Linked DNA regions of Homo sapiens. The protein of the gene in region 1 purifies or fractionates together with the protein of each later gene. This does not show direct contact. Each region holds a gene or a part of one and is shown in the gene's direction. Other genes may lie near its edges. The genes, in order: CRYBB3, WDR81, RGPD5, TNS4, ARHGEF5, NLRP2 and RPAP1.

Region 1 (3,221 bases):
TGCAGGCCCACCTCAGTGCCAGCTCCAGGCTGGAGAGATGCAGAAAGCAGAGGGTACCTCCCTCTAATGCCCAAAGGAGGGGCAGAGGCTGGAGCTGGGAGCCTAGCAGAGGTGGGATGTTTAGGACTCTGCTCTTCTAGGTGATCTTGTACGAACTAGAGAACTTCCAAGGCAAACGCTGCGAGCTCTCGGCCGAGTGCCCCAGCCTGACCGACAGCCTGCTGGAGAAGGTGGGCTCCATCCAAGTGGAGTCCGGGCCGTGAGTACCTAGACCCCCAGTCCCTCGCCACAGCCCTGAGCCTTCTGGGAGTGTGGAGGCCCCAGTCTGAGCTCTAGATCTGTTGTGGGGCTTTTGACAGCTCCCCTGCCTTCTCTGGCCTCGTTTTCCGCATCTGTAAAATGAGAGTTGAAGAATTCTCTAGAATCCTAGATGTCTGCAGAAAATCCCAGGATACCTGAGGTTGGAAGAACAGCAAGGTCAACCTAGCACCTAACTCAGTGACTGGAACATGGGATTTAATATTTATAATTTTAATAATAATTGTAACACCTAAAATTTAACATGCATTATGTCATTGAATCGTCATGACCCTGTGACAGAGGTATCATTCTTATTCCCACTTTATAGATGGGGAAACTGAGGCCAAAGTTGGTAAGTGTCCCATCCATGTCCACAAGGCAGGCAGGTCTCCCAGCTGGGCCCTGAATTCCCGCCTTTGGATTGCAAGTCCAGGCTCTGGCACTAACCATCTGGGTGATCTTCGGCAAGTTGCTTCACACACCAGGCCTCTGTTTTCTCATCTGTTGAATGGGGATAACAATGGTACGTACTTCAGAGAGAGTTTTTATGAAAATGAATGGAATGATGCAAATAAATACATATTAATAACAATACAATACAAAGAAGAGGAAAAGGAAGAGGAAGAAGTCACTGTCACCTATGGAATACTTACTGTGTACCGGGCATTGTGCTAAAGACTTTTCTGGGTACCTTGCACAGAGGCTAGATTCTCAATAACATACCCTAGGATGGTTTTCTGGCCCAGAGTCTCAGACAGTTCCCGGTATGTCCTAGCAGCTCCTTTAATTACAGGTCCAGGAATTAGCAGTAGGGTTGGAGGGAGGGTACAAGGTTCAAGGTCAGCAGCTCTTGGACACTTCTCTCACTAAACTTGAATCCTTCCTCAGCTGCAGCAAAGGTGACCCAGCCAAGCCTCTTCCTCCCTCAGGTGGCTGGCATTTGAGTCCAGGGCCTTCCGCGGGGAGCAGTTTGTTCTGGAGAAGGGGGATTATCCTCGCTGGGATGCCTGGTCCAACAGCCGTGATAGTGACAGCCTTCTGTCCCTCCGGCCTCTGAATATTGTGAGTGTGGTTCCTGCTCACTTCTGGGTGTTCCTGGAAGCAGGGTGCACTGAGAGCTGGTCAGGCAGCTCATTGCACAAGCTGGGCTGAGGGTTTGGCCCATATGGACCTGGCCTGGGAAGGGCCCTCATGTTTCTGATTTGAACAATTGTGTGGGACAAGAAGTGGGATATTGAAGGGACATTCGGTTGGGGATTGAGACACCAGGACTCACATCTTGAATTAAACCAGCATAGCACTGGGACTTTTCTTTGTAACCGTACTAAAACGATGAGCCACATGGCCCAGTCTCAAATCAGTATTGTTATCAAAGAAATGCAGTCCAGGAAATAACTTCAGAAAGTAGCCAAAATACTTTAAGTTCTCCACTTGTGTTTTTCTAGCACCTGAAAGGGACACAGTCCACAGTGACACTTTTTATTTATTTGTTTATTTATTTATTTTTCGAGACAGACTCCTGCTCTGTCACCCATGCTGGAGTGCAGTCTTTCTCTCTCTCTCTTTTTAAACATTTTTATTTATGTATTTTTATTTCATTTTGAGTTGCAGTCTCGCTCTGTCACCCAGGCTGGAGTGCAGTGGCATGATCTCTGCTCACTGCAACCTCTGCCTCCTGGGTTCAAGTGATTCTCCTGCCTCAGCCTCCTGAGTAGCTGGGACTGAAGGCACATGCCACCACGCTGGGCTAATTTTTGTATTTTTAGTAGAGGTGGCGTTTTGCCATGTTGGCAAAGCTGGTCTTGAACTTCTGGCCTCAAGTGATCTGCCTGCCTCGGCCTCCCAAAGTACTGGGATTACAGGCCTGAGCCACCACGCCCGGCCCACAGTGACACTTTAAACACCACCCTTCTCCCTCCCCTGCTTCACTCACACCCCGCAGCTGCTCCAGCCCTTTCTCTTTGTCACATAACTGAGTCCTCCTTAGAGGGCAGTGGAAGAGGGGAAACTGGGAAGATTAAACCGGCATCTGGTTAGGAAAGAGGGAAAGCTCATATGTTGATACTTTTGATCTCTGTCCACCCTCTCCTGGCCTCAGTTTCTCTATCATTTAAATGATGGGATTGAACAAGATCTGGAAATTCCTTTTCAGTTTTATAATCTACGGCTCTAGGTTCCTAAATCAACCAGCTTTGGAGGAATCTCCCCGTCCCTCCTACAGTGAATTTGGGGGTGGAGGCATCTCCTGAGGCCCTTCCCTCCTGCAGCAGGTTTGGGGGTGGGTGTTATTTTGTGGTGACCTGTTGATTCTTTCCGGCATCTGGAGCCTCCTTGACCTCTGTTCTGGATATGGGAGCAGCCGCTCACCCCACGATATTGCCCTCAGGATAGTCCACATCACAAGCTGCATCTGTTTGAGAACCCAGCTTTCAGTGGCCGCAAGATGGAGATAGTGGATGATGACGTGCCCAGCCTGTGGGCTCATGGCTTCCAGGACCGTGTGGCGAGTGTCCGTGCCATCAACGGGACGTAAGGGACCCAACCCTCACCCTTGCCCCATCTTCTGGTCAGCCATGCCTCTGGCTCCAAACAGAATCAGTGCCCATAGTTTCTTATTATTTTATTTATTTATTTATTTATTTTTGAGACGGAGTCTTGCTCTGTCGCCCAGGCTGGAGTGCAGTGGCGCGATCTCAGCTCACTGCAAGCTCCGCCTCCCGGGTTCATGCCATTCTCCTGCCTCAGCCTCCCGAGTAGCTGGGACTACAGGCGCCCACGACCACGCCCGGCTAAGTTTTTGTATTTTTAGTAGAGACGGGGTTTCACCGTGTTAGCCAGGATGGTCTCAATCTCCTGACCTCATGATCTGCCCGCCTCGGCCTCCCAAAGTGCTGGGATTACAGGTGTGAGCCACGGCGCCC
Region 2 (4,685 bases), on another chromosome or scaffold:
AGTAGCTGGGATTACAGGCACCCGCTGCCACACCCGGCTAATTTTTTTGTGTTTTTAGTAGAGATGGAGTTTCCCCAAGTTGGCCGGGCTGGTCTTGAACTCCTGACCTCATGATCCGCCCACCTTGGCCTCCCAAAGTGCTGGGATTACAGGTGTGAACCACCGTGACCGGCCAAGGCCTAGTTTTCCTAAGTGTCTTTATGGGACCCTCACACCTGTACACCAAACTCCTTCAAGAGGCAAACTCTCTCCTAAGAGGGAGACAAAAGAAACAGGGCCAGTGGTTTCACTGTAGACAATGGTCTATCTGTCCTGCAGATGAGTCAGAACTAAGACCCCTTGAGGAATCATGTTGCTTTGGTGCCGGCTGTCTGGTTTCTATTCCATATCCTGTGCCGCACCCTTCCCCCAGCCACAGTGACATCTGGAGGCTCTGACCACAGCTGGCAGGCTCTGTGGTACCGCAGAGGCCAATCTTCAACAGGAAGTCTTGGGGGAACATTTCTTCCCCCAAAACACCAGGCCTCTGGGCCTGGGCCACTTCTCTCCCTCAGACAGCCCAGGGTTTCGTTTTATTTTTATTTTATTTTATTTATTTATTTTTATTTATTTATTTGGTTTTATTTTTATTTATTTATTTTTATTTATTTATTTATTTATTTATTTATTTATTTATTTATTCTTTTTGACGGAGTCTCGCTCTGTTGCCCAGGTTGGAGTACAGTGGCGCCATCTCGGCTCACTGCAAGCTCTGCCTCCTGGGTTCATGCCATTCTCCTGCCTCAGCTTCCCAAGTAGCTGGGACTACAGGCGCCCCCCACCACGGCCAGGTAATTTTTTGTGTTTTTAGTAGAGACGGGGTTTCACCGTGTTAGCCAGGATGGTCTCGATCTCCTGACCTCGTGATCCAGCTGCCTCAGCCTCCCAAAGTGCTGGGATTACAGGCGTGAGCCACTGCACCCGGCCAGTTTTGTTTTTTAAAAAGCCGTGAGAGGGCTGTCAGGAGGCAGTGCTCCTGGGCAGAAAGAAGGCTGGCACCAGTTTCTAAGTCTCCATTCCGCCAGGCGGACAAGCCTCTCTGGCGGTTGTTGGTTATCACTTGTAAAATATAAACAGTAATAACTGTCCTCCCTACCTCACAGAGTGTGTTGCGAGGGCCAAATGGAATGTGACTGTTGAAGTACTTAGGAAAGTTAAAAAGCTCCTTCCTATGGAAGGTGGCATGGAGGCGCCGGGGGGATTCCATGTCAAAAGTCCCAGTTCTGGCCGGGCGCGGTGGCTCACGCCTGTCATCCCAGCACCTTGGGAGGCCGAGACGGGTGGATCACGAGGCCAGGAGTTCGAGATCAGCCTGGCCAACAAGGCGAAACCCCATCTCTACTAAAAAATACAAAAATTAGCCGGGCGTGGTGGCGCGCTCCTGACGTCCCAGCTACTCGGGAGGCCGAGGCAAGAGAATCGCTTGAACCCGGGAGGCAGAGGTTGCGGTGAGCCGAGATCGCGCCACTGCACTCCAGCCTGGGCGACAGAGCAAGACTCCGTCTCAAAAATAGACACAACAGAAGTCCCAGTTCTGCCCCTGGTTGTGCGGTCCGCACTTAACTAAGAGGCTGGCATCTCTGGGAACAGCCTCCGGGACCCGCGCGCTGGTGCGTGCTGGAGGGAGTAGGGAGGGGTGGGGCGGTAGGCATCGCCCTCCGCCGGGCCCGGCTGGAGCTGGCTGGAGACCCTTTCAGCCCCGGGAGGAAGCGGAGCCCAGACCGAGCCAGAGCGGAGCAGCGGGAGGGAGGGCGGGGAGGCCGCCGGGCAGGAAGCGGGGTCCCGCCCGGGCCTCTGGAGCCACGTGCGCTTGTTTCCGTGCTGGGGCGATCACGTGACCCGCGTCAGCTGACCCGTCACGGTGGAGCCCGGTGCTCGCGCCCGGCAGCCTCTGCCCCGCCGCGCCCGGAGCGCAGGACCCGCGGAGGGGTAAGCGCGCCCCCCGTCCGCCTCTTCGCCGCCGCCGGCTTCCTGCGGCCGCCTCCGCCCCAGCCCCTGTCCCGCGCCCATCCCAGCCCCGCCGGCCTGGCACCCCGGAAGCCGTCGCCAGCAGGGCCGTGGCTGGGCTCAGCCCCGCGCTGCCCCCGGGCGGCCTGGAGGAGATGGCCCAGGGCAGCGGGGGGCGGGAAGGCGCTCTCAGAACCCCGGCCGGGGGCTGGCATTCCCCGCCAAGCCCAGACATGCAGGAGCTGCTCCGGAGCGTGGAGAGGGACCTGAGCATCGATCCCAGGCAGCTGGCTCCGGCCCCGGGGGGCACCCACGTGGTGGCCCTAGTGCCTGCGCGCTGGCTGGCCAGCCTCCGCGATCGCCGGCTGCCCCTGGGACCCTGTCCCCGCGCAGAGGGCCTGGGAGAAGCGGAAGTCAGGACTCTCCTGCAGCGCTCTGTGCAAAGGCTGCCTGCCGGCTGGACGCGCGTGGAGGTGCATGGGCTGCGGAAGCGGAGACTGTCCTACCCTCTGGGCGGGGGCCTGCCCTTTGAGGACGGGTCCTGCGGCCCTGAGACCCTCACTCGCTTCATGCAGGAGGTTGCCGCCCAGAATTATCGCAACCTGTGGCGCCATGCATACCACACTTACGGCCAGCCGTACAGTCACAGCCCTGCCCCCTCAGCTGTCCCTGCCTTGGACTCAGTACGGCAGGCTCTGCAGAGGGTCTATGGTTGCTCCTTCCTGCCAGTGGGTGAAACTACCCAATGCCCTTCATATGCCAGAGAAGGCCCCTGCCCCCCTCGGGGCAGCCCTGCTTGCCCTAGTCTTTTACGGGCTGAGGCCTTGCTGGAGTCGCCGGAGATGCTGTATGTGGTACACCCTTACGTACAGTTCTCCCTACATGACGTGGTCACCTTCAGCCCTGCCAAGCTGACCAACAGCCAGGCCAAGGTGCTGTTCATTCTCTTCCGCGTGCTGAGGGCTATGGACGCCTGTCACCGCCAGGGGCTGGCGTGTGGGGCCCTGTCTTTGTATCACATCGCAGTGGATGAGAAGCTTTGCAGCGAGCTGCGACTGGACCTGAGTGCTTATGAGAGGCCCGAGGAGGACGAGAATGAGGAGGCCCCTGTGGCAAGGGATGAGGCGGGCATTGTGTCTCAAGAGGAGCAGGGAGGGCAACCTGGGCAACCCACTGGCCAGGAGGAACTTCGGAGCCTCGTGCTAGATTGGGTCCACGGCCGCATCAGCAACTTCCACTACCTCATGCAGCTGAATCGGTTGGCAGGTCGGCGGCAGGGGGACCCCAACTACCACCCCGTGCTGCCCTGGGTGGTGGACTTCACTACGCCCCATGGGCGCTTCCGAGACCTGCGCAAGTCCAAGTTCCGCCTCAACAAGGGGGATAAGCAACTGGACTTCACGTATGAGATGACACGGCAGGCATTCGTAGCAGGCGGGGCGGGCGGCGGGGAACCCCCTCATGTTCCCCACCACATCTCAGACGTGCTCTCCGACATCACGTACTATGTGTACAAGGCTCGGCGCACGCCTCGGTCGGTGCTCTGCGGACACGTCCGCGCGCAGTGGGAGCCCCATGAGTATCCGGCCAGCATGGAGCGGATGCAGAACTGGACCCCGGATGAGTGCATTCCGGAGTTCTACACCGATCCCTCTATCTTCCGCTCCATCCACCCCGACATGCCTGACCTGGATGTGCCAGCCTGGTGCAGCTCCAGCCAGGAGTTCGTAGCTGCCCACCGAGCCCTGCTGGAGAGCCGCGAGGTATCCCGGGACCTGCACCATTGGATCGACCTCACGTTTGGCTATAAACTCCAGGGTAAGGAGGCTGTCAAGGAAAAGAATGTGTGTCTGCACCTGGTGGACGCCCACACTCACCTGGCCAGCTACGGGGTGGTGCAGCTCTTCGATCAGCCACACCCCCAGCGCCTGGCTGGGGCTCCTGCCCTTGCCCCCGAGCCTCCCCTCATCCCCAAGCTGTTGGTCCAGACCATCCAGGAGACCACAGGCCGGGAGGACTTCACGGAAAACCCGGGACAGCTTCCAAATGGAGTGGGCCGGCCAGTTTTAGAGGCCACTCCCTGTGAGGCTAGCTGGACCAGAGACAGGCCGGTGGCAGGAGAAGACGACTTGGAACAGGCCACAGAAGCTCTGGATTCCATTTCCCTTGCTGGGAAAGCAGGTGACCAGCTGGGCTCCTCCAGTCAAGCGTCCCCTGGACTTCTCTCTTTCTCAGTGGCCTCAGCCTCCCGTCCAGGCCGCAGGAATAAAGCTGCTGGGGCAGACCCTGGGGAGGGTGAGGAGGGGAGGATTCTTCTTCCCGAGGGCTTCAATCCCATGCAGGCCCTGGAGGAGCTGGAGAAAACGGGCAACTTCTTGGCCAAAGGCCTAGGGGGCCTGTTGGAGGTGCCTGAGCAGCCCCGGGTCCAGCCGGCTGTGCCACTGCAGTGCCTACTCCACAGGGACATGCAGGCGCTGGGTGTCCTATTGGCAGAGATGGTGTTTGCCACCAGGGTGCGGACGCTGCAGCCCGATGCACCTTTGTGGGTACGCTTCCAGGCTGTCCGAGGGCTCTGCACGCGCCACCCCAAGGAGGTCCCTGTGTCTTTGCAGCCCGTGCTGGACACACTCCTGCAGATGAGTGGCCCCGAAGTCCCCATGGGAGCAGAGAGGGGCAAGCTGGACCAACTGTTTGAGTAC
Region 3 (4,220 bases), on another chromosome or scaffold:
TCATACTGGGTTTTTAAGTTCTGCTCTATCACTTACTATAATAGCTGTGTAAGTTAACCTGTCTGAAATGTGGAGATAATACTTGCCTTACATAATTACTATGAGCATTTGTGTATGTGCAGGTGGGCGTGGGTGTGTATCAGACATTTATTAGAGTATACAGTAAACAGTTAATGAACTAAGGTTACTAATAGTGTTTACTGTGGGTTGGCTGTGTGCAAAAGTGCTGTGTGAATGTAATTTGATTTAATTACAGTAACTTAGAATGGCCGGTACCATTATTAATCCCTTTTTTATAAATAAGGAAATGGATAAAGAAAGGTTAGGTAACTTACTCATTATTATACAGCTAGTTATTGATAGAGCCGAGATTCACACTCCAGTGGTGTAACTCCAAAGCACTTGCCAGTATAATACATTGCTCCCAGGCAGCCAGAAATAACAAAATTGTTCCTTTTACGTACGACAGACTTCTGAAATGGTAGTAGTAGTGCCCTTTTTTTTTTTCTCTTTTTAGCCCAGGAAAGATTTAGAAAAAAATCTAGTTTAGATGAGCACATTTGTGTGATGGTTCCTATAGTTAAGGCAACCCCACTAGCCTTTTGTGATAGTATCTTCTCAACACAAGCAAAATAACAGAAAATCTTTGTGAAGTCAAGCTTATTAAATGTCGTAAGTCATAGATAAGTATATGAAATGTCTAACGTTCAAACCTTGTTTTCTTAAAACCTTACACATCATATAGGTCCTTGTAAGAGGATAAACAAACCGGCTAGCCTTTCCTGGGGCTTTTTTAGTGATGTGTGCAGTCAGTTATTTGGTGCCTTGTGGGTCATGATTTCCATTTCTTCTGTGTACAGGCATAAAAGGTCTTCTGTTCTTATACAAGCATGTAAATCCAACATTCTCATTGTCTCATTTTATTCTTGCAATGACCCTGTGAAATGTGTAGAAGCAGCACATCGTCATTTTACAATTGAGAAACATGGAGACTCCAAATGGATTATTTACAGGTTCACAAAACAGCTTTGTGGCACTGAAAGGGCGAGAGCCAAGATCTCCTGATTTCTGTTCCTGTGTTCATAGATTCTTTTTCCTTAATAAAAGTAAACATATATCAAGATGGTCCTTGTTTTTTTAAAATAAGATGATTAAAATTAAAGATTAATGAGCTCATAGGAGATACTCAGAAGTACTGAACAGGGTGAAGAAAACTAAAAGCTAACCACCTCATTAACATTTCTTATATTTGAGAGCATTTCCTTCTGGTTCTTTCTCTATACATATAGTATTTTTTATGAGATTGTTACCATGTTACTATGTTGTGTGTAGATGAGCTAGCCTGTTTTTAAAATGTTACTTTAGTTCTGAGCATTTTTAAACTTAAATGTTTTTTGAATATTAATGAGTTCATGGTATCCCATCACATGGAAGTACTGTAAATTCTGTTCCTTTATTTATGTTGTTTCTGGTTTATGCCATTACAAATTCTAGGACACTGTCCTAGTTTTGTAGGGTATTCAAAATATTCAGTTTATGCTCTTACCGCTAGTATCTGATAGTGCCATTTTCGCACTTTTGCTAATGCTGACTTACTAGTTTATAAAATCCTTTGCCAATTTGTAGGAACAAAAGTGATATCAATTTTTAAGTTTTTTTAATACTAGTCATGCTCAACAATTCATGCAAATGGCAGTTGGTAGTTTTGCCATCTTCAACGTACCTTCCAGTTGTTTGGTTTCTTGGTAAAACTCACACAAAACAGATGGAGAAGAGTTTTTGTATATCAACATGAATGTTAATGTGATTTTTTTAAAGCCAACGAACACATTTGTGTTCCTTGTGAGATCCTGTGCGTGAATTTGTCAGGTAATTTTTTTGACCTGAACATTCTCATAATAGCTTCAATTTGCACAATGCAACCTCGTCATTTTGCAGATTTTCAAGGCTCACTTCAAAAACATGTTCCTTGAGGCCTATTAACATTTCTTTCCTAAATTGTCTATTCATATGGTGCTTTAAAAAATTAGATTACTTTTAGTAGATTTATTAGAGCCGCACAGTTTAGAGTCAGTAGTCAATTAAAGTCCCTACTTAAACTTCAGACTAAGATTTTTTTTTATTTAATATTTTATTTTTTCTTTTTGCTTTCATGCAGACAGACATCTTGCAAGACTTTAAGATTCTTGGGCCATTTCTGTCAGGTTGTTCTGTGTTCTGTGCCTGCTTCCTCCCCATAGTAATTTCAAAATAGCTATCCTCACCTCTGTAAGGTTTCCGAAATCAAACTTGGGCTTCTGGCTAGCCTTTTCTAGGTCTTGATTTTTCAGTGCTTTCCAGAGGCAATTGTTTGGAACCTCTTGGCACAGTTTCTGTTTCTCCTTCCATGTACAGGCATAAAAGGTCTTTTGGTTGTTTTCTGGTAAAACTATCATAAAACAGTTCAAGCAAATGACTATTGGTAGTTTTGTCATTAACATGGGTGCCTTCTAGTCATTTTGTTTCCTGGTAAAACAGACCAAACAGAGGGAGCAGACAGTTTGTACATCTGTATGAGTGTTGATGTGCTTTTTATTTTAAGCCAGGGAACACATTTTATGTTATTTATGACATCCTTTCCATGAATTTGTCAGGTGATTTTTGAGCTGAACATTCTGAGTAATAGCTTTAGTTTACAAAATACAACCTAGTCTTTCTGCAGATTTTCTAGGCCCACTTCAAATGCATTGACTATCAGATGGCATCTTGGTTCCTTACGTCCTTTCTGTGACTGAATGTCCATAATTCCACATCATACTGATCTTTCTTAGAAAAGGCAACAGTTACTATCTTCTTTATTCCTTTTTTAATGCTTGCGAGGTAGTTCTTGTTGATCACAGCGATGCTATTCTCTCATTCTTCATGTCATATTTAGCAATTTTTTTCTAGTTTGTCATTTGATAATCTTGATTGGTGTATTTTGATGTACAGAAATTTAAAATTTATGTAGTTAAATCTTTCTTTAACTTCTATTGCTTTTGTATTTATAGCTCTTGCCTAGATAGTCTTAACTGTAGTATAGACTTTAACAGTGTTTTCTTTTCTTTTTTTTTTTTCAGTTGCAACTACTGGCCCTTCAGTATATTATAGTCAGTCACCAGCATATAATTCCCAGTATCTTCTCAGACCAGCAGCTAATGTTACTCCCACAAAGGTAACAAAGGAATAATTTATACATTTATAATTATTTTCTTTTTAAATTGTTTAGGGTTCCTTCAAATAAATTCAAGAGAGCAGTTCACTATTAAAACTTTTATGTCCCTTAAAATGTAGATATTTTAAATTTATCTCCAAATACAGAAATTATCCTTCTTAGTCACCTTATTTTTGTGTTAGTAAGTGTGAATATTTAGAATATTTTAAAAATGGGAGTGGTGGTGGTGGATCCTTCATCGTTCTGTTTTAACAGAAATAGAACTGTAATGCCCTTGCTGACCCACTATGTGGTAAGTACTTTCAGGCCTGATACAGCTATATATATAACAATTGATTGAAGACTCAATATTACAGTGGTAGTTGAATGTGACAGCTTTGAGGACAGAGTGTTGGGGTGCATTTAGACCCTTGCTCTTCTGCTTATTTTGACCACAGGCAAGTTTCTTAACCTCTCAATGCATCAGTTGCCTCATATGTAAAATGAGGATAATAATAATACCTTAATTCATAGGGTTTTTGAGGATATTAAAATGAGATAATAATGTAAAGTGCTTAGAACAGTGCCCAGCTGGCACATTAATGAATGCTCAATAAATGTTATCATCATCATCATCATCATTATTGTTAACATCATTTGATAAATTGTTTAGGAATGAAGAAGGTATTTATTTCATGACTATTTTGGGCATGTGGATCAAGAAAATTCACCTTCATTTATGTTTCAGGGTTCTTCTAATACAGAATTTAAGTCAACCAAAGAAGGATTTTCCATCCCTGTGTCTGCTGATGGATTTAAATTTGGCATTTCGGAACCAGGAAATCAAGAAAAGAAAAGGGAAAAGCCTCTTGAAAATGATACTGGCTTCCAGGCTCAGGATATTAGTGGCCGGAAGAAGGGCCGTGGTGTGATTTTTGGCCAAACAAGTAGCACTTTTACATTTGCAGATGTTGCAAAATCAACTTCAGGAGAAGGATTTCAGTTTGGCAAAAAAGACCTCAATTTCAAGGGATTTTCAGGTGCTGGA
Region 4 (4,728 bases), on another chromosome or scaffold:
AAAAGAATTATATACCATGACCAGGGGGTTCATCCCAGGTATGCAAGGAGGGTTCAAAATTCAAAAGTAAATTAATGTAATCTATCACATCCATAGGCTAAAGAAAAAATGTCATATCTATAGATGTATAAAGAAATGCCACTCCATCCATCCCTTGATGATCACGGCAAAGGGCAGTGATGTGGTGTTGGGCAGGGTTTGTGAGGCAGCTGGGGCTGAAATCACTGTTCTGAGACCATCTTAAGCTAAAGGAAGCAGCTGGGTGTGAAACAAAAGAGCCAATCTGCCAAGAAAGACCATAACCCCCAGGTATGGGTCTGTAAGGCTGGAGGACCCCCTGGCCCTGAAGAACCACTGCAGAGGCTATCCATACCAGCCCCAGGGGAGATGGCCAGGGTTACCCCGGAGTTGCCACAGTCTCTGCCCAACACTTCGCCCTACTGTAACCTGCCCCTTCCACTCAAGAAACTCACGAGTCGCCCCTCCCACTCTCCCACAATCATGAGCCACAGCCTCATGGGGGAAGCCGCCATGTGCAGTGACATCCACTCCAGGGCAGGAGCACCACATTTTTCATCCAAAGACATAATTGCTCATCAAGCCATGTGCCAACAAGGCTGCATGGACACCTAGGGACACCTTTTATGTCACCATCAGGAAGGGGCACCTTATATAACTTTCCATAGCTTTGCTCACCGGCCTCCCATGCACTAGTTCACCATGCCTCAGTGAAACCCCAGGGCATCAAAAACTGTAAGGCCAGAAGCCCTTCCACTGGGCATAATGGGGGCATGGGGCAACCCACCCCTGAGATTAGCCTACTGGGATCACCATGAGTCCCTGGGCTGGAGACTTCGCCAGCTCCCTCACTTCAGACCGCTCCCAGACCAGGCTCTGCCATCAGCACCCTCCCCTCACCATGTCTGAACACCTCCTTACAACATTCTAGGACCCCTGCCCCTCTAGAACAGGGAGAGAGTTGGAACCATGGAGAAGGAGCTACCAGACCAGACTTCTGGGCTTCCTGATCTCACCCTCCAATGTCCTCCCCTCAGGGAACTTCCACCCTGGGGCACAGACCAGACGAGGGACAGAGATAGCCCATGAGTGAAGGAACAGCTATAAGCCCCTTCTCAAAGCCCTCCAGACACTTCAGCCTCCTTTCCTTGAGTTAGAGGCCCCATCCCAAGCTAGAGTCATTACTGTAAAAGGAGAGAAAGAAGAAAAGACAAGCTCGTGCCTAGCCTTACTTCCAGTGGGCCCTTACCCTGTGCCTGTCCCAGTGTGACCCAGCACAAAGGGGGACTGCAGAGGGTCTCCTGCCCACTGGCATCCTGCTTTGTCAAGGCCCTCACTCTCTGCCAGCTCTGCCAACCCATGGCCTCTGCCCCAGCCAGCACCTGAGGAGTGCCCACTGCACACCTTGATTCTAGCTATGCCCTGTCCAAGCAAGGACTCCCTGGCCATGTGGTGCCACGAGAAGCCCAAGCAGGAACTTGGGAGCCCCTCACACACACCCAGACCCAAAACCCACCACCCAGTGCTTCCCTTCCTGCTGCCTGTGCCAGCCCCACCTGAGCTCACTGGATCCAGCAGGGGTGGGGCCTACTGCTGTCAGGGCCACGTGCAGGGCCCGCCCGGAGGGGAGGAGAGAAGGCGGGCAAGCTGCTTTTAAGGCAGGTCTGGAGGTGAACTGGCGCCTCTCCTGACTCTTCACCTGGACTCTGAGTCGTCTTGGTCCCAGGAGCCAGTAGTGAAGGCAACAGTCTGCCCACCTGTGGACACCAGGTAGGTGCCTTTATTCTTTAAGAAGAGAGGAACACGGAGCACCTTTGCTGGCCCTGATTCATTTAAACATTTTTTTTTTTTTTTTTGAGATGGAGTCTTGCTCTGTCACCCAAGCTGGAGTGCAGTGGCGCGATCTCGGCTCACTGCCAACGTCTGCCTCCAGGGTTCAAGCGATTCTCCTGCCTCAGCCTCCCAAGTAACAGGGATTACAGATGTTTGCCACCATGCCCGGCTAATTTTCTTATGTTTAGTAGAGACGCGGTTTCACCATGTTGGCCAGGCTGGTCTCAAACTCCTGACCTCAGGTGATCCTCCCACCTTAGCCTCCCAAAGTGCTGGAATTACAGGCGTGAGCCCAGCCTCATTTAACCTTTTGTCTTCAGCTTCTCCATTTCTCAGGGCTCAGAGTGAAGGTGGGGAGAAATGGGGTGGAGGATGTGGATGAGACAGAGATGGTCTCAGGATCACAGACCGCGGAGTTCAGCAGTTCAAGGGAACTAAACCTGTGCCCCTCGGCAAATAGATGAGAGAGCTGAGGGCCACAGAGAAGAGGCTTGCCTGAGGTCATGGAAAGGGACTGGACACAGAACCCAGGCCTCTCGCCTCCCAGCGCTCTGGGAGCCCTCTGGGCACTTCAGAGGTAGACAGGACTGGGAGATGGGGCGGCTGGCCTTCACTGGTCCTATGGGTCCCTGCCTGAGGTCCACGTCCTGCGTCACCGGGTCTGGGTGGGAGGGATGGGAAGATCGGGAGCCAGTTTTCAAAAATAGGGGGTGCAGTGGAGATTGGGCTAATGAGGCAAAGTGCTTTGGGGGAGACTCAGGCTTTACCCTTGCCCCACCCTCTCCCTTCACTGACCTGGGCTCATTGGGAGAGAGTAAGTCAGGAGAAGAGGTTGGCAATGACACGGAAGAGGGGATTTGCCAAGGCACCAGGACTCCCCAGAGTCCTTGGGAACAAAGAAAGAGATCTGAGTCAGAATCAGAAGTGGGAGCGGGTAGGGGGCACCTACAAATAGAGCAGAGGTGGCTGGAGCCCTCCTTGCCCCCGCCCCGTGCCTCCCAACCACACAGAGCCCCGGGCCCAGGGACTCTCCCCACCACTTACAGCAAGAAAGAGCAAGTTAGAGGAGTGTGCGGGGCCGCGAAGGGGGCAGCATTCAGGAATACAGGAGTAAGATGGAGCCCTGCCTTGGTACATCCAAGGGCGACGCAGAGCCTTAAAAGTGAGGGGAGGCTGAAGAGGAGCGTAGGGGCTGCCTGCCCTTTGCTCAGCTCCAGGTCTGTCCCTCTTGGTTCCAGAATCCCAGAAGGGGCAGCGGTGGACAGGGTTCTTAAATATGTGAAGCAGCAGCAGAGGCTAAAAGTGTGGGACCGTGGAGCAAGACCACCTGGGTTTAAACCCCAATTCACAGTTGGGGTTGTATGACCTTGGGCAAATTCCTCAACCTCTCCAGCCCTGCAGCAATAGCACCCTCCTCAGAGAGCTGTTGAGAAAATGCAAGGTGTTCAGTGTCTGTTATTATCACATCCCCATCACACAGATGGGACAACTGAGGTCTGCCCAGAGAGGAAAGGACGCTTGCCCAGCGTGGCACAAAAGCTGTGTCCAAATTAGTAAGCAGGTATACTGGGTCCTGGTTGCGAGGGGACACCCAGCCCTCCTTGAGCTCTGCAAAGTCAGCAGCCCCAGCCTCCTCTGCAGGACACAGCCAGAAAACCCTGCAGGGAGCGCCCAGATCCTGTCCCAACAAACCCAGTCCACTTGGAGCCTGTGTGGAAAAAGCCGTGGTTCCGGCTCTGTGTCCTCAGCTGTCCCGGGAGGGCGGGAGCGCAGAGGCCGGCTCCCTTCCACTTCCATTTATAGAAAGCTTCCCGTGCCCGGGATGCCCCGCCCCCTGCAGGACCTGGCCAAGGAAAAGTCTGGCATCAGACCTACCGGAGCCACGGGCGTTGGGGGAGGCAGGAGAGGGGAAGGGGCCCTGGCTTTTCTCATGAAACCTGTGCGACCTTCAGCCAATCATGCCCCCTCTCTAGATCCCAGGTGTCCCTCTGCACTTGAATTCCATGTGGCATTGTAGCAGGACGAGCCGCAGACAAAACTCCTCAGACACCAAGTTAAAGAAGGAAGGGGTTTATTCGGCCGGGGGCATCAGCAAGACTCCTGTCTCAAGAGCCGAGCTCCCCGAGTGAGCATTTCCTGTCCCTTTTAAGGGCTCACAACTCTAAGGGGGTGCGTGTGAGAGGGTCGTGATCAATTGAGCAAGCAGGGGGTACGTGACTGGGGGCTGCACGCACCGGTAATTACGTGGGAACAAAACAGGAAAGGGATTTTCACAGTGCATTTCTATACAATGTCTGTAATCTATAGATAACATAACCGATTAGGTCAGGGGTCGATCTTTAACTACCAGGCCCAGGGTGTGGCGCTGGGCTGTCTGCTTGTGGATTTCATTTCTGCCTTTTAGTTTTTACTTTTTCTTTCTTTGGAGGCAGAAATTGGGCATAAGACAATATGAGGGGTGGTCTCCTCCCTTAGCATAAGGAATTAAGATTCCAAAATCCCACACCTGGGTTTGAATCCCAGCTCCACCATCTTTCTGGATGTGAAGCGTGTTTCTTGACCTCTCCGAGTCTCAGCATCTTCATCTGTAAAATGGACTGACAACTCAAAATAAATAAATAAGGCCAGGCACAGCGGCTCACACCTGTAATCCTAGCACTTTGGGAGGCCGAGGAAGGAGGAGCACTTGAGCCCAGGAGTTCAAGACCAGCCTGGGCAACAAAGTGAGACCCTCTTTCTACAAAAAATTCTCTGGGTATAGGGCACAAGCCTGTAGTCCCAGCTACTCGGGAGGGTGAGCTGGGAGAATCGCTTGAGCCCCAGGAGGTCAAGGCTGCAGTGAGCCATGACTGTGCCACTGCACTCTAGCCTGGGCAA
Region 5 (4,220 bases), on another chromosome or scaffold:
CCCTTCCCCGCACCTTCACTGCATCCCCCATTGCTCCCCATATCCCCCCTCCCCTAAGGCTCACTCTCCGTGCAGGAATAGCAACAGCAATTTCCGGGAGGTCTTGGAGAAGCTGGAGAGCGACCCCGTCTGCCAGCGCCTTTCCCTCAAGTCCTTTCTGATTCTGCCCTTCCAACGCATCACCCGCCTCAAACTGCTGCTCCAGGTAGGGCAGATGCTACCTTGATCCTCTCCCCTTAACTCAAAGGGATGCCCTCAGGAAGACCCACAACAAAGGACCAACCATTCTTCTGCCAGGTGTCCACATCCTGTCTCCCTGCTGCCCACTGCCTGCTTGCTTGGAAATATTTGCTGCTAAAATGTGGTCCCTGGGCTTCTCCATTCACCAGCCCCCAATCATTTCTTCCTGTTTCCCATTTCTTCCTCCCATCTCACTCCTGCCTACTGTCTGTTCAATAGAACATTCTGAAGAGAACACAGCCTGGCTCCTCGGAGGAGGCAGAGGCCACGAAGGCACACCACGCCCTGGAGCAGGTAGGCAGCCACCACCTCCACTCTGACCCTCTGTGTGTTCTTCTCAGAGAGGTCTTTCCCACCTAGGCCCATGACTCCAGGGAGCATGGGAGGTGGGACCCTGTTGGGAGAGCTCAGCCACCTCCCTGCATCCGCCAAACTTCCAAACATACACACCCCACGGCCACCTCTCCCACGCCGAGCACACTCCACATCAAGGGACTGTGCCCTCTCCACCATCACCCCCCCATTCAGTCTCACTTTTACTCAGTTCAGGAATGTTCTGCCAAGTCATACAAAGTTGCCTAGGACTTGTGCTTGATACTGCCTGCCCAATTCCAGCCTGGGAAAAATGACTGAGGCTGTCATAACCTATTTCCAGATTGCTTGCAAGGGACTCAAAGGTCAAAGCCTCTAACACAGTGCCCTTCCCCTTTCCTCACTCTCTGCACCCCTAGCTGATCCGGGACTGCAATAACAATGTCCAGAGTATGCGACGGACAGAGGAACTAATCTACCTGAGCCAGAAGATTGAGTTTGAGTGCAAAGTGAGTCGGTCCCATGCACCCCATCCCTGCCCATGAACTCCCTTAACATGTCCTGCAGATCACCCCCTAACCTGGAACCACCTTGCTCACATTATCCCCAGCCCCTCCCCTCATTTCTGCCCACCTTCTATTCTGTCCTATTTCTGGGAGGCCTACTTGGGTCTCCAAGACATACTGCTAAGTGAAATGATGAAGGTAAAGAATTGTGTGTATATTATATCACCTTTGGTATAAAAGTGGGAGGATACAAATCTATACAGGTGTCTGCTTGTGTGTGCATAAGGAAACTCTGGAAGGAGAACAAGAAAAAAAGGAACAGTGGTTACCTGAGGACAAGGGGGGTGCATTTGAGAAATGGGCAAATGAGAGAGAACTTTTCAGGATGAGCCTTTATAAAAGAATGTTTTGGTGCTTGATTCATTTATTACTTTATCAAATCTCTTTCTAGTCTAATCAAACCCACATAAGATTGGATCCAAATTTAGAGCCAGCATCCCTCATTGAAATACAAATCTAAAATAGACATTCCACATTCAAATTCCAACTTAGAACAGATACTATCTTTTTTTTTTTTTTGACAGAGTCTCACTCTGTCGCCCCAGGCTAGAGTGCAGTGGTGCGATCTTGGCTCACTGCAACCTCCACCTCCCAGGTTCAAGCGATTCTCATGCCTTGGCCTCCCGAGTAGCTGGGATTCCAGGTCTGCACCACCATGTCTGGCTAATTTTAGTATTTTTAGTAGAGATGGGGTTTCACCATGTTGGCCAAGCTGATCTCCAACTCGTAGCCTCAAGTGATCCACCCACCTCTGCCTTCCAAAGTGCTGGGATTATAGGCGTGAGCCACCACGCTCGTGCTTAGAACACATACTATCTTTACACTCCTGAAAAAGAAGGAAAATCCCTTATTCACATACTAAGCATAGACCACACCCTCATCTTTAACCAAATTCCAGCTCCAAGACGCCCCACCTAGTTCTTCTCACCCCCATGTTTGATTCCAGCTGCTCACATATCTCTGGTATAAAAAATGGAATTGATACCAGACCTGCCTCTAATATTTTATTTTAACCTCTAAGACACATATAGTGTTCACTGACTTGTTCCATCACATACCCTGATTGGACTCTTCCATCCCTCCTTCAGTTCAGGCTTCTAGGGCAGAGCTGTCCCACACACTCACTATCCTGAGTTGGACCATAGGCATCTTCTATTTACCTGAGCATACAACCATGGGAGCCACACACCAGTGGACAGTGGTAGTTAGAGGGTTCAGAGAGAAAGAGAATCTAAGTGATGGGTTATGAGCCAGAAGGCAGATGTGGAAGAGATGCTTGTTCAAGTGGAACTTGCATGGAAGTGGCATGGGGAGGAGGGTGGGACTGGGAGCAAACCTCATGCTTCTCCCATCTGTGACACTGCCTTCTCTCTCTTCCTCTGCCCTGTAGATATTCCCGCTCATTTCTCAGTCACGCTGGCTGGTGAAAAGTGGGGAGCTGACAGCCTTGGAGTTCAGTGCTTCCCCAGGGCTACGAAGGAAGCTGAACACGCGTCCAGTCCACCTGCACCTCTTCAATGACTGTCTGCTGCTGTCTCGGCCCCGAGAGTCAGTGACTGGAGTGGCAGGCCAGGGCACAAGAGGGGAAGGGGATGAGGAAAGAGGGGGGTCTGAAAGGGAGAGAGAAGGGTCATGTTCCTAGAAGAGCCCTTCTCAATGGCTTAACCCATAGAGCCCAGGTCATAGCCTAGAGAAGAGAAAAACAAGCCCAAAGCAAAAAGGGGATCCCATCAAACTGTATCATGAGACCACATAGCAGGACATGTAATATGGTATAGACACAGAGCAAAATGTAGCAAATTAGCTTATCACATTCTCACATGAGTCTATTTGTGGCTTCTTTGGACTGGCCTCAACCTGCTATTCTAGAGATACTTAGCTAATTCCAGAGCTTAAGTCTCTGGTCTTAAGGTTCTTGGGAAATGTATATAAATTCCATCTCTTCACCTCTTTAAAGTGGTAATGTATCCACTGCACTAGGTGTGTGGTTTGCCAGACTAGGACAAATCCCTGAGGACCCTGGAGCTACCATCTTGGGAGCAAGTTAGGACCATCTTATGGTTTTTGTGGGAATTTGCAGGCTGTAGATGTAGGGATTTCGAACCCAAGGTTATGAGGGTAGGTGAAGTATGGAAACTCTAGAATCAGGTTGAAAAGATTTGTATTTTGCAGGGGTAGCCGATTCCTGGTATTTGACCATGCTCCCTTCTCCTCCATTCGGGGGGAAAAGTGTGAAATGAAGCTACATGGACCTCACAAAAACCTGTTCCGACTCTTTCTGCGGCAGAACACTCAGGGCGCCCAGGCCGAGTTCCTCTTCCGCACGGAGACTCAGTGAGATGGGGCTGGGCAGAGGAGCTGGGGGTGGGGGAAGATGGGCAGCCGAGAAAAGAAGTGAGACCAAGGCAGAAAATGTGTCCAGAAGACAGCCACAGCCTCATTTAGCCCATTCTGGACTGGGGACCACCATAGAGAAATTCAGACTCCTAAAACTAATGGATAACTTGCAGGAGATTGGGGTGGGAGAGGGTACAAAGTCACCACCGAGGCTTAGCATCTATTTTATACTCTTTACTCAAGAGGGACAAGGTCTGTGTAGTATCAGAAAGGAGAAGGACTGGTATGGAGTGAGCAAGGAATTGGAATACTGGTATCTGTGAGCACATGCCTCCATGCCTGAGGCAGAAACCCTTCTATGCCCCAGCTGGTGGGCACAGATGTGAATAAGACAAGTGCTGGGTGACTTTTACTTTCTGTGCTCCCATCTTCCAAACCAGTCCTCTATTGACCAGAAATCCATAGTGTTGAGAATGCTGATTTGCTCATGTTTTCAATAATAATAAAATAAAATACATTCACACAGACATACATTTTTGAGAGTATTAATAGTACCTATAAAATCTGGAACACAGTGCCTGCAATAATGAACATGTAAAAGCCTGTAGCTGTTATTGCTATTATAAAAGATATATGAACAGTCATTTAAAAGTTTGACGTATCTAAGTGTTTGAGGATCCCTATGTTGTAGACACTTTTTCAGTTTTGTCCCTTGGAAGATACTTCAGAGTGGGACCGATAACACCTGTTCTCATTTATTGAACA
Region 6 (4,220 bases), on another chromosome or scaffold:
CCATACGTGAGGACCCTGAATCCAAAGAAACTCCCAGAATCTTTATCATCTTTTTTTTTTTTTTTATGAAGTCTTGCTCTGTTGCCCAGGCCAAAGTGCAATGGCACGATCTTGGCTCACTGCAACCTCTGTCTCCTGGGTTCAAGTAATTCTGCTGCCTCAGCCTCCCAAGTTGCTGGGATTACAGGCACCCGCCACCACGCCCGGCTAATTTTTGTGCATTTAGTGGAGCTGGTTTCGCCACATTGCCAGGCTGGTCTCGAACTCATGACCTCAGGTGACCTGCCCTCCTCAGGCTCCCAAAGTGCTGGGATTATAGGCATGAGCCACCATGCCCAGCCAGAGTCCTTATGTTTTGGTTTTGGTTTTGGTTTTTTCTTTTTCTTTTTTCTTTTTGAGATGGAGTCTCGCTCTGTCACCCAGGCTGGAGTGCGTTGGTATGATCTCAGGTCACTGCAGCCTCCACCTCCCAGGTTCAAGTGATTCTCCTGCCTCAGCCTCCTGAGTAGCTGGGATTACAGGTGCACACCACCACACCTGGTTAATTTTTGTATTATTAGTAGAGATGGAGTTTTACCACATTGGCCAGGCTGGTCTCGAACTCATGACCTCAGGTGATCTACCCCCCCACCCCCACCCCACCCCGCCGTCGGCCTCCCAAAGTGAGGCATGAGCCACCGTGCCCAGCCCAGAATCTTTATCTTCTATCAGAGATCATTCACTCATGGTTCATGCTTCTCCTGTATGATGATTCAGAATACCAGCTATTGACATTTTTCAAGCAAGAACCCTTCAGGAACATCAAGTTGCCCCTTTTCTGTTAGTCCTCTGGTTTGAGAGCTCTCCCCTTGGGAAGCTGTCCAGTGGCTGCCCAGGCGATGAGAACCTACATGCATCATGGGGTTCCATGAAGCCTCACTTGGCCACACTGGTGTAGTAGGTGGTCATTGGCCTCAAATTATTGCCCTGGGCCAGGCGCAGTGGCTCACGCCTGGGAGGCCGAGGTGGGTGGATCACTTGAGGTCAGGAGTTCAAGACCGGCCTGGTCAACATGGTGAAACTCTGTCTCTACTAATAATACAAAAATTAGCTGGGCATGTTGGCGCACGCCTGTAGTCCCAGCTACTCAGGAGGCTGAGGCAGGAGCATCATTTGAACCTGAGAGGCGGAGGTTGCAGTGAGCTGAGATCACACCACCGCACTCCAGTCTGGGCAACAGTGTGAGACTGTCTCAAAAAAAAAAAAAAAAATCTTGGCTGGGTGCGGTAGCTCATGCCTGTAATCCCAGCACTTTGGGAGGCCAAGGCAGGTGGATCACAAGGTCAGGAGTTCAAGACCAGCCTGGCCAACATGGTGAAACCCCACGTCTACTAAAAATACAAAAACATTAGCTGGGCATGGTGGCGCGTGCCTGTAATCCCAGCTACTCATGGAGGCTGATGCAAGAGAATTGCTTGAACCTAGGAGGCAGAGGTAGCAGTGAGCCAAGATCACGCCATTGCACTCCAGCCTGGGCAACAGAGCAAAACTCCATCTCGAGGACAGAAAAAAAATTGATTGCTCTGGCTCTACTGATACAATCTTAGGCTGCTTAATGGGATCTTAGTTGAATAGGATGCTGTACATCTTACAGGTATTGGAAGGTTGAATGAAACCAAGCCCATGCATTCAATAGTGGCTGCTATCATTACTAACCGTTGCAATTACCCTCTTTTCTTTTTGCCTGAGAATAATGGGATGCAGGGTGAGGGGGAATATTGGGTGAATTAAAGATTTGGGTCACTAATTTCTTTCTTTTTTTCTCAAGATATAGTCTTGCTCTGTCTCCTAGGCTGGAGTGCAGTGCCACAATCTTGGTTCACTGCAACCTCTGCCTCCCGGGTTCAAGTGATTCTTCTCCGTCAACCTCCCAAGTAGCTGGGATTACAGGCACCCACCTGTATTTTTGTATTTCTAGTATTTTGTATTTCTAGTAGAGACAGGGTTACGCCATGCTGGTGGCCAGGGTGGTCTCAAACTCCTGACCTCGGGCAATCCACCACACCCAGCTAATTTTTGGTATATTTAGTAGAGCCGGGGTTTCACCGTGTTGGCTGGGCTGGTCTCGAACTCCTGACCTCAAGTGACATCCATCTTCCAAAATGCTGGGATTACAGCCATGTGCCACCACGCCCAGCTAATTCTTGTATTTTTAGGAGAAATGGGGTTTCATCATGTTGTTCCGGCTGGTCTTAAACTCCTGGCCTCATGATCCACCTGCCTTGGCCTGCCAAAGTCCTGGGATTACAGGCATGAGCCACTGTGCCCAGCCACTCATTTCTTATGAATTTATTCTAACACATTTTCCGGATGAACAGGGCACCTTGAAACATAGGTTAGTGGGCTGGGTATGGTGGCTCCTGCCTGTAATCCCAGTACTTTGGGAGGCCTAGGCTGGTGTATCGCTTGAAGTCAGGAGTTTTTTGTTTTGAGACGGAGTCTTGCTCTGTCGCCCAGGCTAGAGTGCAGTGGAGTGATCTCGGCTTACTGCAACCTCCGCCTCCTGGGTTCAAGTGATTCTCTTGCCTCAGCCTCCTGAGTAGCTGGGACTACAGGCACGTGTCGCCACGCCCATCTAACTTTTGTATGTTTAGTAGAGCCGGGGTTTCACCATGTTGGCCAGGATGGTCTCAAACTCCTGACCTCCTGATCTGCCCACCTCGGCCTCCCAAAGTGCTGGGATTACAGGCATGAGCCATTGCCCCGGCCAAAGTTAGGAGTTTGAGACCAGCCTGGCCAACATGGTAAAACCCCATCTCTACTAAAAAATACAAAAATTAGCCAGGCAAGATGGCATTTGCCTGTAATCCCAGCTACTCAGGAGGCTGAGGCGGGAGAATCTCTTGAATCTGGGAGGCAGAGGTTGCTGTGAGCTGAGATCGCGCCACTACACTCCAGCCAGGGCGACAGAGCATAAATAACTCCCTTTCAAAAAACCAAACAATGAAACATAGGTTAGCGGAGTCTGCATCCAACATTAGAGTCAGATTGACTAAGTTCTGTATTTCCAGCTGATTCCTGGGCGATGTTGGTGCCACTGGTCTGACCACCCTTTGACAACTGCTGCTCCAGATAATTCAAGTCGGGGTATAACACAACCAGTGAGATGTAAACCAAAGACGATTCCACGGTTAGATTCTCAAGAATGACTTGTTCTGCCGGGCGCGGTGGCTCACGCCTGTCATCCCAGCACTCTGGGAGGCCGAGGTGGGCAGATCACCTGAGATTGGGAGTTTGAGACCAGCCTGACCAACATGGAGAGACCCCCACCTCTACTGAAAATACAAAATTAGCTGGGCATGTTGGTGCATGGTGCATGCCTGCAGTCCCAGCTACTCGGGAGGCTGAGGCAGGAGAATCACTTGAACCCAGGAGGCGGAGGTTGCTGTGAGCCGAGATTGCGCCACCTGGGCAACAAGAGTGAGACTCAGTCTCAAAAAAAAAAAAAAAATGACGTGGTCCTATTTCTCCCACAGGTTGGTGTCTTGTTCCGCTACCACTCAGCAGTGGGCTGATCTCTCCTTGGCCCTTGAAGTCAACCAGTCCCTGACGTGCGTAAACCTCTCCGACAATGAGCTTCTGGATGAGGGTGCTAAGTTGCTGTACACAACTTTGAGACACCCCAAGTGCTTTCTGCAGAGGTTGTCGTAAGTCTCTCCTCTCTTACAGAGCAGCTGTGCTTTCGATCTGGGGCCACAGACGAGCAATGGTCATGCCTGACTTGGCTGTATGGAACCTCTCGCTGATGTGAACACCTGTTCCCATGTTTAGATCCAGGCCGATGGCCTGTGAATTTTGTTCTTCTCTCATTCCTATTCCTTCATAGGATCACCAGTGCATGATAGAAGGTGGGGAGTTCACAAGAAGGGGCTTTTGGATGCTGGCACTTGTGGAGCTAGCCGGGAAGGTTGAAGTTGGACCTGTCAACCGTGTTGCCATTTGTGATTCTTTTGTAGGTTGGAAAACTGTCACCTTACAGAAGCCAATTGCAAGGACCTTGCTGCTGTGTTGGTTGTCAGCCGGGAGCTGACACACCTGTGCTTGGCCAAGAACCCCATTGGGAATACAGGGGTGAAGTTTCTGTGTGAGGGCTTGAGGTACCCCGAGTGTAAACTGCAGACCTTGGTGTAAGTCCGTGCTGGCTGCCTGTGTGCGTGGGTGTATATGCACACGCCCCCCAC
Region 7 (4,220 bases), on another chromosome or scaffold:
CAGGGCTGGGGTGGCTGGAGTGTAAAGGGGCGTGAGGCAGCCAGATCCTCACTGTGGCACCCTTTGGCACTTTTGTAGTGATTCTGCTGAGGCCAGCCTCTCGGCCACCCCTTCCTTAGTCACTTGGACACAGGTGTCTGGGCTCCAGCCTCTTGTTGAGCCGTGTCTAAGGCAGACCTTGAAGTTGCTGTCCAGACCTGAGATGTGGAGAGCCGTGGGCCCAGTGCCCGTTGCCTGCCTGTTGTTCCTGGGAGCCTACTACCAGGCCTGGAGCCAGCAAGTGAGTGCCTCCTGCCGGCTGTCCACCAGGCCCCCGCACCCTGCCTTCAGCTACATTCCACCCGTTGCTCCCTCTCTGTGTCCATCTCTCCACTCCTACTTCCCCATTTACTATCTTCCCTTTTAATTCCTACCCTTCCTCCTCTTTCTACCTCCATATCCCCGTGGAGCTTCCCAGGAGCCATGTTGGTGGGGACCAGAGAGCCCACGCAGCAGCTCAGCCTTCCTGTAGCCTGTGTGCTCCCTCTTTATGCCCCCTACACATCGGGGCCTTCTCTCCCTTCAGAAGGCTCAGCCTGCAGAAGCCTCCAAATGTGCTCTTTTGGGCTGTTGGGATGGTGGCATTGGCCTGGGTACACAGGGTCTAGGAGAATGAATGGCTGGGCCATCAGCTCAGTGAATTCCTTGGTCCACCAGCCAAGCTCATGCCCGGAGGATTGGCTCCAGGACATGCAGCGCCTGTCAGAGGAGCTGCTGCTGCCACTGCTGAGTCAGCCCACACTGGGCAGCCTGTGGGATTCCCTTAGGTATGTACTGTGTTTGGTAGCTGGGGGAAGCAGGGGAGGAGGCAATTTCTTTCCTTGTGGGATTCCTGGGTCCAGCTCCCAGGTCCATCCCAGGGTGCAGGCCCTCGGCCCGAGGGAAACCCGAGTCCCTAGCAGGCAGCAGTGGGGTGGGCTCTGAGGAGTGTGAGCAGCACTGACCTCCACAGCCAGGCCCCCCGTTAGTCTTAGGTACAGACCCAGAAGCTCTTTCCAGCTTGGCACACGCCAGGCCAGAGTCCCCCTCAGACTCTCCACTTCACCTACAGGCACTGCTCCCTTCTCTGCAACCCGCTGTCCTGTGTGCCAGCCCTTGAAGCTCCCCCCAGCCTCGTGTCACTGGGCTGCTCGGGAGGCTGCCCCCGTCTCAGTCTGGCTGGCTCAGCCTCACCCTTCCCATTCCTCACTGCCCTCCTCTCTCTTCTTAATACCCTGGCCCAGATCCACAAGGGGCTGTGTGGCCAGGTAAGTGTGGGGTGCCTGATTAGGGGCCAGGCAAGGGGCCAAGATGGCAGGAATCAGAAAGAAAGTGGGAGGGTGGGATGGGCGCGGTGGCTCACGCCTGTAATCCCAGCAGTTTGGGAGGCCGAGGTGGGCAGATCACCTGAGGTCGGGAGTTCGAGACCAGCCTGGCCAACATGGAGAAACCCCATCTCTACTAAAAATACAAAATTAGCCAGGCATGATGGCACATGCCTGTAATCCCAGCTACTCGGGAGGCTGAGGCAGGAGAATCACTTGAACCCGGGAGGCGGAGGCTGCGGTGAGCTGAGATCACACCATTGCACTGCAGCCTGGGCAACAAGAGCGAAACTCCATCTCAAAAAAAACCAAAAAGAAAGTGGGAGGGTGTCCCATGGGGAAGGGAGGCCTTCTGCTGGCACTCATTTCCCTGAGTCTGGAGAGGGGCAGCCACCTGGGGAGCCCTAGAAGGCATGAGAGTCAATTTCTAGATCTGAACAAAATTGCTTTTCCTCAGCTGGCTGCCATATTGGCTGCCCCGGGACTCCAGAATTACTTCCTCCAGTGTGTGGCTCCTGGGGCTGCCCCACACCTCACACCTTTCTCTGCATGGGCCCTGCGCCATGAGTACCACCTGCAGTACCTGGCACTCGCTCTGGCCCAGAAAGCGGTAGGTCCCCCTGTCTGACAGGTTCTCCTGTCATCCCATTATCTCCTTCCTGTTTCTGTGGAACCCAGCCTGCTTCTGCCAGGCCATGCAGCTCCCACTTTCCTCCAGACATGCCCTGGACCTCTGCCCTTCAGCCTCACTTTTATCCTCTTCCTCACTTCTCTCTGCCACGTCCCCTTCTCCTGTACTAGGTAGTTCCCTGCTTTTCTGTCTGCAGGCAGCGCTGCAGCCACTGCCAGCCACCCATGCTGCCCTCTATCATGGTATGGCCTTGGCCCTGCTGAGCCGGCTGCTGCCCGGAAGTGAGTACCTCACCCATGAGCTGCTGCTGAGCTGTGTATTCCGGCTGGAGTTCCTCCCGTAAGTGCTTGGTTGGTGGCATCAACTCAGCCCTTTTGGACGCTGCTGCAGTTGTTAACAGAGCAGCCCTGAATTTGGAGCCAGGAGACCTAAATTCTCTTTCTTCCACCGACGACACTTAACTCTTCCGAGCTTCCATTACCTCATTAGTGAAGTGAGGATCAGGCTAACCACACCCAAGAATGATTGTGAGACTTCAGTGTGACTGCATGGCTAAAAAAATGGTATCTAAATCAGTTACACACATGTAATAGCCATCCGCTACTGAGTGTTTACTCTGTGTTTGATACTCCCTTATGTATTTATCTACATTTTAAGTATTTTACTTGGACCATGAGATAGATACTATTATTATCCTTATTTTACTCTGAGGAAACTGAGGCCCAGAGAAGTTATGTAAACTCATGCCTAGGCAGCTGGCTGTAGTGTGCATCCTCTTAACTGCTACACAGCACTGCGCGGGAAGTAGTTAAGGGAGCAGAGAGGCACAGGTCTGGACCTAGGAGCCTCCAGGAAGTTCCAAAGAGCTGGCACAGCCTCCAAGTGCTGTGGTTCCAGCCCTCATTTTTGGCTTTTGGGTCCCATTACAGGGAAAGAACATCAGGGGGTCCAGAGGCAGCCGACTTCTCTGACCAGCTGTCGTTAGGAAGCAGCAGGGTCCCTCGGTGTGGGCAAGGGACTCTGCTGGCTCAGGCCTGCCAGGACCTCCCCAGCATCCGCAACTGCTACCTGACTCATTGCTCGCCAGCCCGAGCCAGTCTGCTGGCCTCCCAGGCTCTGCACCGAGGGGAGCTACAGCGAGTCCCAACCCTGCTACTGCCCATGCCTACGGAGCCGCTGCTGCCCACCGACTGGCCCTTCCTGCCACTGATTCGCCTCTACCACCGGGCTTCAGACACCCCCTCGGGACTCTCTCCCACAGACACCATGGGCACAGCCATGCGGGTCCTGCAGTGGGTGCTAGTTTTGGAGAGCTGGCGCCCCCAGGCTCTCTGGGCTGTGCCCCCTGCTGCCCGCCTGGCACGGCTCATGTGTGTGTTCCTGGTGGACAGTGAGCTGTTCCGGGAGTCCCCAGTACAGCATCTGGTGGCAGCCCTCCTCGCCCAGCTCTGTCAGCCTCAAGTCTTGCCAAACCTCAACCTGGACTGCCGACTCCCTGGCCTGACGTCTTTCCCTGACCTCTATGCCAACTTCCTGGATCATTTTGAGGCTGTCTCTTTTGGGGACCACCTCTTTGGGGCCCTGGTCCTCCTGCCCCTGCAGCGTCGGTTCAGTGTCACCTTGCGCCTTGCCCTCTTTGGGGAACACGTGGGAGCCTTGCGAGCTCTGAGCCTGCCTCTGACCCAGGTACTTTCTCAGCCCAGCAGGACCTGCAAGGGTACCCTGCACTGGGCCTCGGGGGCAGTCCTGAGCCTTGAGGAGCTTTGGAAGACCTCAGCTTCCTCATCTTACCTCTTGGGGGCTTTGAGGGGATTAAGAGAATCAATGAAAAGGGCTTAACATGGGCTGGGTGTGGTGGCTCACGCCTGTAATTCCATCACTCTGGGAAGCTGAGGTGGGTGGATCACTTAAGGTCAGGAGTTTGAGACCAGCCTGGGCAACATAGTGAAACCCCATTTCTACTAAAAATACAAAACTTAGCTGGGCGTGGTTGCGGGTGCCTGTAGTCCCAGCTACTCAGGAGGCTGAGGCAGGAGAATCGCTTGAACCCGGGAAGCGGAGGCTACAGTGAGCCGAGATCGCGCCACTGCACCCCAGCCCAGTGACAGAGCAAGACCCTGTCTCAAAAAAGAAAAAAGGAAAGGGTTTAACCTGGTGTCTGGCATATAGTGGGTATTCATTACTATTAATAAGGCATAGCTCCTTGCTTATCAGTGCTACAATCTAGATAAGAAGAGATTTACTGA

The links.
Region 2: the proteins of CRYBB3 (region 1) and WDR81 purify together in Homo sapiens (co-immunoprecipitation; one large-scale study listed by IntAct). This does not show direct contact.
Region 3: the proteins of CRYBB3 (region 1) and RGPD5 purify together in Homo sapiens (affinity purification with mass spectrometry, with the first as the bait; one large-scale study listed by BioGRID). This does not show direct contact.
Region 4: the proteins of CRYBB3 (region 1) and TNS4 purify together in Homo sapiens (affinity purification with mass spectrometry; one large-scale study listed by BioGRID and IntAct). This does not show direct contact.
Region 5: the proteins of CRYBB3 (region 1) and ARHGEF5 purify together in Homo sapiens (affinity purification with mass spectrometry; one large-scale study listed by BioGRID and IntAct). This does not show direct contact.
Region 6: the proteins of CRYBB3 (region 1) and NLRP2 purify together in Homo sapiens (affinity purification with mass spectrometry; one large-scale study listed by BioGRID and IntAct). This does not show direct contact.
Region 7: the proteins of CRYBB3 (region 1) and RPAP1 purify together in Homo sapiens (affinity purification with mass spectrometry; one large-scale study listed by BioGRID and IntAct). This does not show direct contact.

Annotation. Positions count from the first base shown.
Region 1 is NC_000022.11:25,202,534-25,205,754, forward strand, and holds part of CRYBB3 (beta-crystallin B3), read left to right. Parts: intron 1-140; coding exon 141-259; intron 260-1,229; coding exon 1,230-1,362; intron 1,363-2,686; coding exon 2,687-2,829; intron 2,830-3,221. UniProt on the Homo sapiens protein: Crystallins are the dominant structural components of the vertebrate eye lens.
Region 2 is NC_000017.11:1,722,819-1,727,503, forward strand, and holds the start of WDR81 (WD repeat-containing protein 81), read left to right. Parts: upstream 1-1,885; 5' UTR 1,886-2,141; coding exon 2,142-4,685. UniProt on the Homo sapiens protein: Functions as a negative regulator of the PI3 kinase/PI3K activity associated with endosomal membranes via BECN1, a core subunit of the PI3K complex.
Region 3 is NC_000002.12:109,831,899-109,836,118, forward strand, and holds part of RGPD5 (RANBP2-like and GRIP domain-containing protein 5/6), read left to right. Parts: intron 1-952; coding exon of another isoform or gene 953-1,065; exon of another isoform or gene 1,066-1,121; intron 1,122-3,098; coding exon 3,099-3,193; intron 3,194-3,920; coding exon 3,921-4,220.
Region 4 is NC_000017.11:40,498,594-40,503,321, reverse strand, and holds the start of TNS4 (tensin-4 precursor), read left to right. Parts: upstream 1-1,698; 5' UTR 1,699-1,788; intron 1,789-4,728. UniProt on the Homo sapiens protein: Promotes EGF-induced cell migration by displacing tensin TNS3 from the cytoplasmic tail of integrin ITGB1 which results in dissociation of TNS3 from focal adhesions, disassembly of actin stress fibers and initiation of cell migration.
Region 5 is NC_000007.14:144,372,224-144,376,443, forward strand, and holds part of ARHGEF5 (rho guanine nucleotide exchange factor 5), read left to right. Parts: intron 1-75; coding exon 76-205; intron 206-459; coding exon 460-534; intron 535-971; coding exon 972-1,061; intron 1,062-2,508; coding exon 2,509-2,666; intron 2,667-3,290; coding exon 3,291-3,452; intron 3,453-4,220. UniProt on the Homo sapiens protein: Guanine nucleotide exchange factor which activates Rho GTPases. Strongly activates RHOA. Also strongly activates RHOB, weakly activates RHOC and RHOG and shows no effect on RHOD, RHOV, RHOQ or RAC1.
Region 6 is NC_000019.10:54,986,507-54,990,726, forward strand, and holds part of NLRP2 (NACHT, LRR and PYD domains-containing protein 2), read left to right. Parts: intron 1-3,515; coding exon 3,516-3,686; exon of another isoform or gene 3,687-3,887; intron 3,888-3,995; coding exon 3,996-4,166; intron 4,167-4,220. UniProt on the Homo sapiens protein: Suppresses TNF- and CD40-induced NFKB1 activity at the level of the IKK complex, by inhibiting NFKBIA degradation induced by TNF. When associated with PYCARD, activates CASP1, leading to the secretion of mature pro-inflammatory cytokine IL1B.
Region 7 is NC_000015.10:41,519,831-41,524,050, reverse strand, and holds part of RPAP1 (RNA polymerase II-associated protein 1), read left to right. Parts: intron 1-78; coding exon 79-280; intron 281-696; coding exon 697-806; intron 807-1,090; coding exon 1,091-1,286; intron 1,287-1,800; coding exon 1,801-1,953; intron 1,954-2,170; coding exon 2,171-2,313; intron 2,314-2,903; coding exon 2,904-3,660; intron 3,661-4,220. UniProt on the Homo sapiens protein: Forms an interface between the RNA polymerase II enzyme and chaperone/scaffolding protein, suggesting that it is required to connect RNA polymerase II to regulators of protein complex formation.